2 linked regions of the Homo sapiens genome follow. The protein of the gene in region 1 interacts with the protein of each later gene in a pairwise test. Each region holds a gene or a part of one and is shown on either strand. Other genes may lie near its edges.

Region 1 (4,000 bases):
GGAGACAGTGGGCTGGGGACACCCTATCTTCTATCCCTTACTCCTCCCTCTAAAAGACTTCTGGCTCCCCCGCAAAGCCTTATTGAGTCAGGCCCGGAGCGATGGGTGTGGTGCTGCCCAGTATTTCCTTCCTTTGCCTGAGGCTGTGCCAAAAGAGCAGGCTGCTAGAAGAGGAGCCTCGACCTAGAGAGCAGCCCAGAGTCCACCAGGTGGCCGGAGATTTGGGCCAATTAAGTAGGGGGTTGGAGGTAGTAGTAGGAAGACCTGAGGTCAGTCTTGCCCTGGCAATTCGTGCCAGCAAGTGAAGACCCAACACTTGCATGAGGAAGGGATCCAACGAGGAGCTCATTAATGGGAAATATTCAGGAGCGCGGCCGAAGGGTTTGCGCCATTGTTGGTGAGTTGTTAAGACTTGGAAGAAAACTGACTTCAGTAAGCTTCCATTTCCACCCCTCGATGTGAGGAAATAAGATCAGGGCTGACAAACAGTGATGACTAATAATACCTTAAGCTTGCACAGCATACTTTACAGTTTACAAAACACTCTTATTTGATCCTCACAACAGCCAAGAGGCGACAAGGTGGCTATTACTAATTATCCCTAGTTTCCAGACCTGGAAAACTCTGGCTCAGAACTTGGGTGACACGGGTAGGTTACCCCGCCTTTAAGTGACCAAGCCGAGACTTACTGTGCCGCTCTCCCCCTTGGAAGCCTAGTGATGTGCCTAGGTAATGAGCAGGTAAAGTCGCTGACGCTGGGCAGCAGCTAGACGGCGCTGAAGCTCCAGTAAGGAATTTGGCATTAGGACCCAGCAGAAGCCTGGCCGCCCGCCGCGGAAAAGACTATTGGATTTGCTCTGCCGACCACACCTCCTCCCGCCCCGCCTACCTGTCCGTCTTCGCACAGCGCAGCCAATTGGTGGCCTCCACATCCTTATACGTCATTATTCTACGCCCAGGTGGCTCTAGGACACCCTGTGGTGCTCTGGGTCGCAGTTGTCCTCAGAGTTGCCTGATTGGAAAAATCTCCAGGGCGAGGGATCAGTCTCGAGGCTGCCGGTTCCCCTGGCCCTCAGGGATGGAGCCAAGGTCCCAGGGCGGGTTTTCTTTCCTAGGAAGTGGTTGCTGGGTTCTGAGGAGTTTCCCCCTTGGCAGCCATGAGCCGGCAGTTCTGGTAGTGACTGCTGGGCCCTGCTGGACAGCGGTCGCATGCAGCTCCTATGAGGCCCCTGCCGCCGGTCGGCGATGTCCGGCTGGAGCTGTCGCCTCCGCCGCCGCTGCTGCCGGTGCCGGTTGTGAGCGGGTCTCCAGTCGGCTCCTCTGGGCGTCTCATGGCCTCTAGCAGCTCCCTGGTGCCCGACCGGCTGCGCCTGCCGCTCTGCTTCCTGGGTGTCTTTGTCTGCTATTTTTACTATGGGATCCTGCAGGAAAAGATGTGAGCGACCCCGGGGGCGGGCCGACAGTCTCTCCCCAGCCTGTGACAGGGATCCCGGGCCTTCTGCCTCTGGACCCGGGCTTTCCTCTTGTCCTCCTGCCCGGCTGTCGCCCTCTTAGCACCCTACTACTTTTGCAGCTATGGCTGAGCCTACCCAGAATTCCAGAACTCCAGGATTATTTTCTGGATTCTTCGGACTTGGTTATTTTCTTTTCTTAGCTGTTTTTCCCCGCTTGGTTCTAAGGGCCTGCGTTTTACAGGCTGAGACTTCTATTCCTCAAACAGGACCCGAGTCGGCCCCCTTTTGGTACTCCCAGATGCTTGCAAACAACCTATTCGTCCTCGGCCTTGGTGCCATAGCCGAAATACCGTCTCCTCCTGCCTGGGGTACCTGATTTCACTATCTCGTTCTGCATGTTTCCTCTCCGTCTTTTTCGGGTATTCTTTTCTTAGGCTTTGGAATCAGTAGGCTGGGATGTCTAGTTTCTAGATCCAGTAAAATCAGCCCCTTTTGCAAATGAGCCTAGTGGTCCTTAACAAACTCTGCCTACATCCAGAGAGGCAAGATAATTTTAAAGTTTTCAGTGGCTCGGGATATATTAGATGACAGTGAGTGAAATACACTAATTTCTCCCTCTTTTCTCATGCATTTCATTTCTAGAACAAGAGGAAAGTATGGGGAAGGAGCCAAGCAGGAGACGTTCACCTTTGCCTTAACTTTGGTCTTCATTCAATGTGTGATCAATGCTGTGTTTGCCAAGATCTGTGAGTACCCAGATAGTAATTTGTTGGGTACCCCACCACCCCAAGTTCCCTCAGTATGCTGGGCATTAAGCATTGATTCAACCTTAAAGGCTAACTCATGATCTCCACCCCATTTTGTACTTACACAGCCTCTCTGTGAAGTCTGTAAAACTAATGACTTTGAAGTGGAGTAAAATATTATTTCCCCAATTTTTATCAGCTTCTGAGTTAGAAATGTTCAGAGAATGGGTCTTCTATATTCCAAATCCCCATTGAAAATACTTAAAACATTTTTTTCTTTCCCTTTGAGTTTCTTTTGTGTGTCAGCTTCAAGCATGCTTTGAGCATTCTCTCTTTGTTCCCTGGGGACTAGCAGCAGAGCTGACTGGTCCCTTGAACTGAATGAGGCCCCCACCTCCACCCTGCATGTGGTCTTTTGTTGGGCTTAGGTAGAATTGGAAAGATGAATAATTTTCAGAGATTTCCCAGTGTAACAGGACAGAAATAGCTTGTGTCTTGTTTGACAGACAAGTTCCTTTCATGTGGCTTCAGCTTTGCTTAGTGGTCCATCCTAGCCCCACCAGGTTTCTCTTGTTTTTTTTTTTTTTTCTTTTCTTTTCTTTTTTTTTTTTTTTTTTTGTCTTCTCCCAGTGATCCAGTTTTTTGACACTGCCAGGGTGGATCGTACCCGGAGCTGGCTCTATGCTGCCTGTTCTATCTCCTATCTGGGTGCCATGGTCTCCAGCAATTCAGCACTACAGTTTGTCAACTACCCAACTCAGGTGAAACCTCAGGGTGGGATGATGGTTGGCTCAGATATCATTTGAAAAGGACTAAGAGTTCTTCCCTCAGGTCTGTGAGTTAAAAAAAAAAAAAAAAAAAAGATAACGGTCCTGTAAGACATTGGGAGTGTATAGAACCATAGAACTTACGTTTAGTGGTGGTGGGTTGGGCCATGATAGGGCTGCTTTCTGAGGCTGAGGTCTCTGGTGCAGGCCCTGTGCTTACTCATCTTAATCAGTGCGGTACCTAGCATAGTACCTGACACATCACAGATGCTCAGAAATTATTTGCTGGATTTAATTTCAGGTCCTTGGTAAATCCTGCAAGCCAATCCCAGGTAAGCAAAGAAGATGGTCTTCCTCTTCTGTCGTCACTCTTCCTATAGTAAGCTCTCTCTCTGCTACAACTGTGTCCCTCTCGGCTTCATCATCCCATCATGGCTGTCTCCAGGGACTTTCCCCCAGCTCTCCCTGCTGCCCATCCTGTCATCTGTGTCACTTCTTGTGATGTTCATAGGCTGGTAATCCTTAATAGGAGCTAAAGGCTGACCTAGCCTGCTTCACTTGGTCAGCCATTTCTGTGTTGCATGTGTTTATATTGTCATTAGACAACTTAATTCCCATTTTGATCATCAGTTTCTTTATCTCAACTTCTTTTCCTTCTCCACTGTTCCCTACCCTTGTCCTGTCCCTTCCTGGACTTTTCACCTTTGTTCTCTACCTCCTCCCTGTCTTATACTTAACCCTGTTGCTCAATCCTTATCTAGGTGCCAGCCTGGCACCCTCCTTTTGTCCTCTCTAAGCCTTCCTTCTCAGTCATTCTTTTCTCCCTGAGTCTTTTCTTGGTTCCTGGGAGGGAGGGCATTGGGGTCATCAATACCTTATGGATGCCTGAATTTTCCACTCTGTTTTTTCCCTGTAGTCATGCTCCTTGGGGTGACCCTCTTGAAGAAGAAGTACCCGTTGGCCAAGTACCTGTGTGTGCTGTTAATTGTGGCTGGAGTGGCCCTTTTCATGTACAAACCCAAGAAAGTTGTTG
Region 2 (4,441 bases), on another chromosome or scaffold:
GGGTGTTCCTCTCTGAGGTTACAAATTTAGTTACTCCACTGTGTGACCACAATTGCCTCTGCAGCCCAGTTCAAGTGCTCAGTGATTCCAAGTATACCAGTTCTCTGATTTCATCAACACCATCAGTCCACCGATTCTATCAGCCTATCTTCCCTTCCCTTTCAATCCAGCTTAGGTTTCTGGCCCAATATGCATACACTTTTACCGATATCCTTAATTCCCTTGCTTCATTGTTCTTAAATCATCCTTGGCTTCTCTCTTCCCCTCATCCTCCATAGCCCATCAATCACTGAGTTCTGGCGAATTTAAGATATCTTTTCAGGTCTTTCAAGCCTTCCTACCTCCACTGCCCCTCCCTAGATCAGGCTGCCAGCATTGCTGTCCTGAACAACTGCAAACTCTCCTAGGTACTCTGCCTCCAGTCTTGAATCTTCTATAATCAGTTCCCCCACATAGCAGCCTCTGTGATTTTTTTTTTTTTTGAGACAGTCTCACTATGTTGCCTAGGCTGGAGTGCAGTGGCCTGATCTCACTGCACCATCTGCTTCCTGGGTTCAGGTAATTCCCGTGCCTCAGCCACCCCAGTAGCTGGGATTACAGGTGTGAGCCACCACATCCGGCTAAGTTTTGTAGTAGAGATGAGCTTTTGCCATGTTGGCCAGGCTAGTCTCAAACTCCTGGCCTCAAGTGATCTGCCTGTCTTGGCCTCCCAAAATGCTGGGATTACAGGCATGAGCCACCATGCCTGGCCAGTTTTTGTTGTTGTTGTTGTTTGTTTGTTTGTTTGTTTGTTTGTTTGTTTTACTGCAAATTGAATCACTGGAGTTGTCCCTGTGCTTAAAACCCAATCCTTCAAGTTGGCTTCTTTTTTCCCTCAGGATGGAATCCAGTCTCCTACATAAGACTTCAAGGTTCATAGTCAGGCCCCTGCCTAAGCCTTTGGCCTTACCTTGTACCATCTTCACTTCAAATCCCATTCATTAGCCACTGAGTTTCTTCAAAACTCCATGGTCTAACCTGAGCCAGGTGTGGAGGAAAAACCCTGGGCAGAAGTGAGTTCTAGTCCAGCTCTCCTACTTCTCTGCTGTGTAACATTGGGTTCTTTCAAGTATAACACTCTATGCCAATTCATACCTGGTCTAATGTCTTCATCTGCAATGGTGTCTTTCTTCCCTCCAGAAGAGAGAATATAAAATTTGGAGCACAGGTTGGGAAGGGTTCTGTGGACACTTCTCTGCCCACTGATAATTACGATAAGGATAATGATAGTGAATGTTTGCTGAGAGCTTACCATGCATCAGGTACTGAGACAAGCACTTTATGTGCGTGACTCATTTCCTTTGCACAAAACCCAATCAGGTAAGTATATAGTCATCCTGTTTTATGAAGGGATAAAGAACTGCATCTCAAAGGGGTGATAGTAACTTGATAGAGGTCACATAGCTCATGACCGATAGAACAAAGATCTGATCCTGCATTAGCCTGGTTTTTGAGTGCTCTGAACCACTTTGTTTAACTAAATAACTAGAGGGACAGGGGATGCATAGCCCACTTCTTAAAAGTGCTTTGTGGAAAGATAGGTTCAAACTGTTACTGCGTTTGGAGGGTCTTGGGTATAATCATGCTTATCTGTACCTTTTAAAGTAAGGACTAGTCCAATTCCCCAAAGTCTAAACACAGAAATCACCAAAGCACTAATGGCATCCCTCAATAACAGCTCTTTTGTCTTCAGGTCCCCAGGCTGACCTGAACAAACACACCTGTGTATGTTTCCTCAACAGCCCCCCCAGTGCATTTTCTCCATGAGTGTGTCTGATTGAAGTAGGTTCCAACCATTCAATATTCCCCAACTTCCATGCCCTGTGACAACTGCGAAAAATTTCCATCCAACCTATAATGTCTTCATGGCTGAGGGTGGCCAGATAGTGCAGGTTAGGGATGAAAGAGAGAAGGCATGAAGTATGTTGCTGACCTATGAGATACCTCTAGTGGGGGATGCCTCAGACACTGCCACTCTTGTTAAGCTGCAAGTAAAGTAGAGGGAGAGTGTCGCTATGGGGAAGTAAGCTGTCTCTCACCTACCCATCACTTATCCACTCACCCACTCTCACTCAACAATTTAAGTAACTACCAAGTGCCTAGCACCATTTTAGGTTATAATAGATTTTAGAGAAGCATGAGACAAATTCTCTGCTTCAAGGAGCTCATGGTCTGGTGGAGAAGACAAGAAATGCACAATTGAGAGATTAGCATTAAGCATTAAGTTGGCTCCTCACAGAAGACAGGCCACAAGGGAGATTTTGTGTCATTAGTCACAATGTGACTCTAGAGTGATCCCAGACCTTCAACTACACATACTACTAAAGAAAAATAGTGTGTGGAAACATGGATCCACCGTGGTGCGGGGGCAGGCGGTGGGAGGCGGTGCTGACATCCTCTGCCTGGGACCCTGGAAGTTAGTTTCTGCTTGTCAACACATGTCTCTTATTGACCCTGCCATAAATGAGTGAAAGAGTTGAAAGGGCTGAGTCCAAAAAAGGATGAACCAAGGAAGATGACCCAGGAACAGAATACCTACAGTGCCTTCTGAAATATTCTACCATAGCTAAATGGTGAGCATTTGTAGCTGGCCAGAAATAGATGCACATCAATTACAAGAGAGTCCTCCCCAAGAAGGGATTCATAGACCAAGAAAAAGGCCAACAAGAGGGATTATCTTTATGCACTGGGGAATCTCAGGACCAGAAGCTACTGTTTCCATCCTCCTTTCTCAGGCAGGACCATACTTCACCTAAAAACATGATAGCATTTGCTCCTGCCAAGAATGACTCCAGAAGCTGCAGAACACATATTTCTGCCAGCTTTGGGGGTCTGCTCATGTGAAGTTCTTTGGCCCTTTCAATCTGGGAAAAGAAAAAAAGTCACCTTGTCCTTGTACACCAGTACATTCTCCTTGTTTTTTGTTTTTAATAAAAACTGGCCTGTGCCAGAGCAACATACCATGTGACACTGCCAATCAGGGAGGCTCCAACCATGAGGTAGCAGACACAGAGCCCAGGAAACCAGGAAGAAAAATTAGGCCATGAAAAGCTATCACCAGGATAACTTATGCCTCTTCCTAGCTCATGTGGTGTAAGATGGAAATGAATTCAGCTGCACCTAAATCAAAGGGATGACAAGCAATTCAAACCCCTATCTCGCTCAAAATGAGCAAGAGCTGCTGACAGGTGAAAGCCAAAGAATTTTGGTGCAGATAAGTGGAGAGTGTAAGAAAGAAGTATATCCTTGAATTTTGTGAACGTTTTAGAAACATGATTTCAGAAATGTAAAATCAGGTGCTGAATTACTGCAAAAGGACAACAGCTCAAAGTGTTGTTTCTTACTTAAGCATCTTAATAATAACAATAACAATCATTACAGTTAACATTTAAAGAGTACTCACTTTTCCCAGGGACTCTTTCAAATGTCTTGTCTCTATTACCTTAATTAATTACTGTGACCCAATTATGTTGGTATTAACATCCACTTACAGGTGAGAACCCCCAGGTGATAGAGGTTAATTAACTTGCTCATGGTCACATAGCTAGTAAGTGTTAGAGTCAGGATTCAAATCCTGGAAGTCTAATTCCAGAGCCCACAGGTTTAACTACCATATGGTGTTGTTTTTAAAGGGTTTAAATAGGTGACTAAATATTGATATATGTCATTCATAAAACTCATGGTGAGGCTCAACAACAGAGGAGTCTTCTCACTTATTATGAGGTGAACACGATTATTACAGTCCCTTATTTGTGCCTGAAATAACTGATGAGCAGGTTAAGTGCCCTGCCCAGGGACATCCAGGCCTCACCTGCCTCTGTCTATCAGAAAAGCATTGATCAGGGTTTTTTTTGTTTTTTGTTTGTTTGTTTGTTTGTTTTTTGAGATGGAGTCTCGTTCTGCCACCCAGGTTGGAGTGCAGTGGCACGATACTGGCTCACTGCAACCTCTACCTCCCAGGTTCAAGCAATTTTCCTGCCTCAGCCTCCTGAGTAGCTGAGACCACAGGTGCATGCTGCCAGATCCTAATTTTTTTGTGTGTTTTAGTAGAGATGGGGTTTCACTGTGTTGCCCAGGCTGGTTGTGAACTCCTGAGTTCAAGCAATCTGCCCACCTCAGCCTCCCAAAGGGATGGGATTACAGGCGTGAGCCACCGCGTCTGGCTAATCAGCTCATTTTTTAAAGGCAGCTCTCATGAGTCACTCCTGTGTCTGTCCAGGATCCCAGGCCATCCCGCCCTCACATTTCTGTAAAATGTGGAAGCTTAGTCTTGGAGATATAACAAGTTTTCCTTCTATGGTAATAAGAAAGCAAACCCAAAGACCTAATTGTTGGCAGAAGTCTGGCTTTCATCCTTTGGACAGTTCAGTTCACCTCAAAGAGATGTGGGACAGAAGGTAAT

The links. Proteins that work in one complex are often made in the same cells at the same time.
Region 2: the proteins of SLC35B1 (region 1) and DRD2 interact in a two-hybrid assay, tested with the Homo sapiens proteins (one large-scale study listed by BioGRID and IntAct).

What each region holds. Positions count from the first base shown.
Region 1 is NC_000017.11:49,705,165-49,709,164, reverse strand, and holds the start of SLC35B1 (solute carrier family 35 member B1), read left to right. Parts: upstream 1-1,200; 5' UTR 1,201-1,220; coding exon of another isoform or gene 1,221-1,331; coding exon 1,332-1,435; intron 1,436-1,720; coding exon of another isoform or gene 1,721-1,822; intron 1,823-2,096; coding exon 2,097-2,200; intron 2,201-2,830; coding exon 2,831-2,961; intron 2,962-3,268; coding exon 3,269-3,299; intron 3,300-3,883; coding exon 3,884-4,000.
Region 2 is NC_000011.10:113,464,644-113,469,084, forward strand, and holds part of DRD2 (D(2) dopamine receptor), read right to left. Parts: intron 1-4,441. UniProt on the Homo sapiens protein: Dopamine receptor whose activity is mediated by G proteins which inhibit adenylyl cyclase. Positively regulates postnatal regression of retinal hyaloid vessels via suppression of VEGFR2/KDR activity, downstream of OPN5.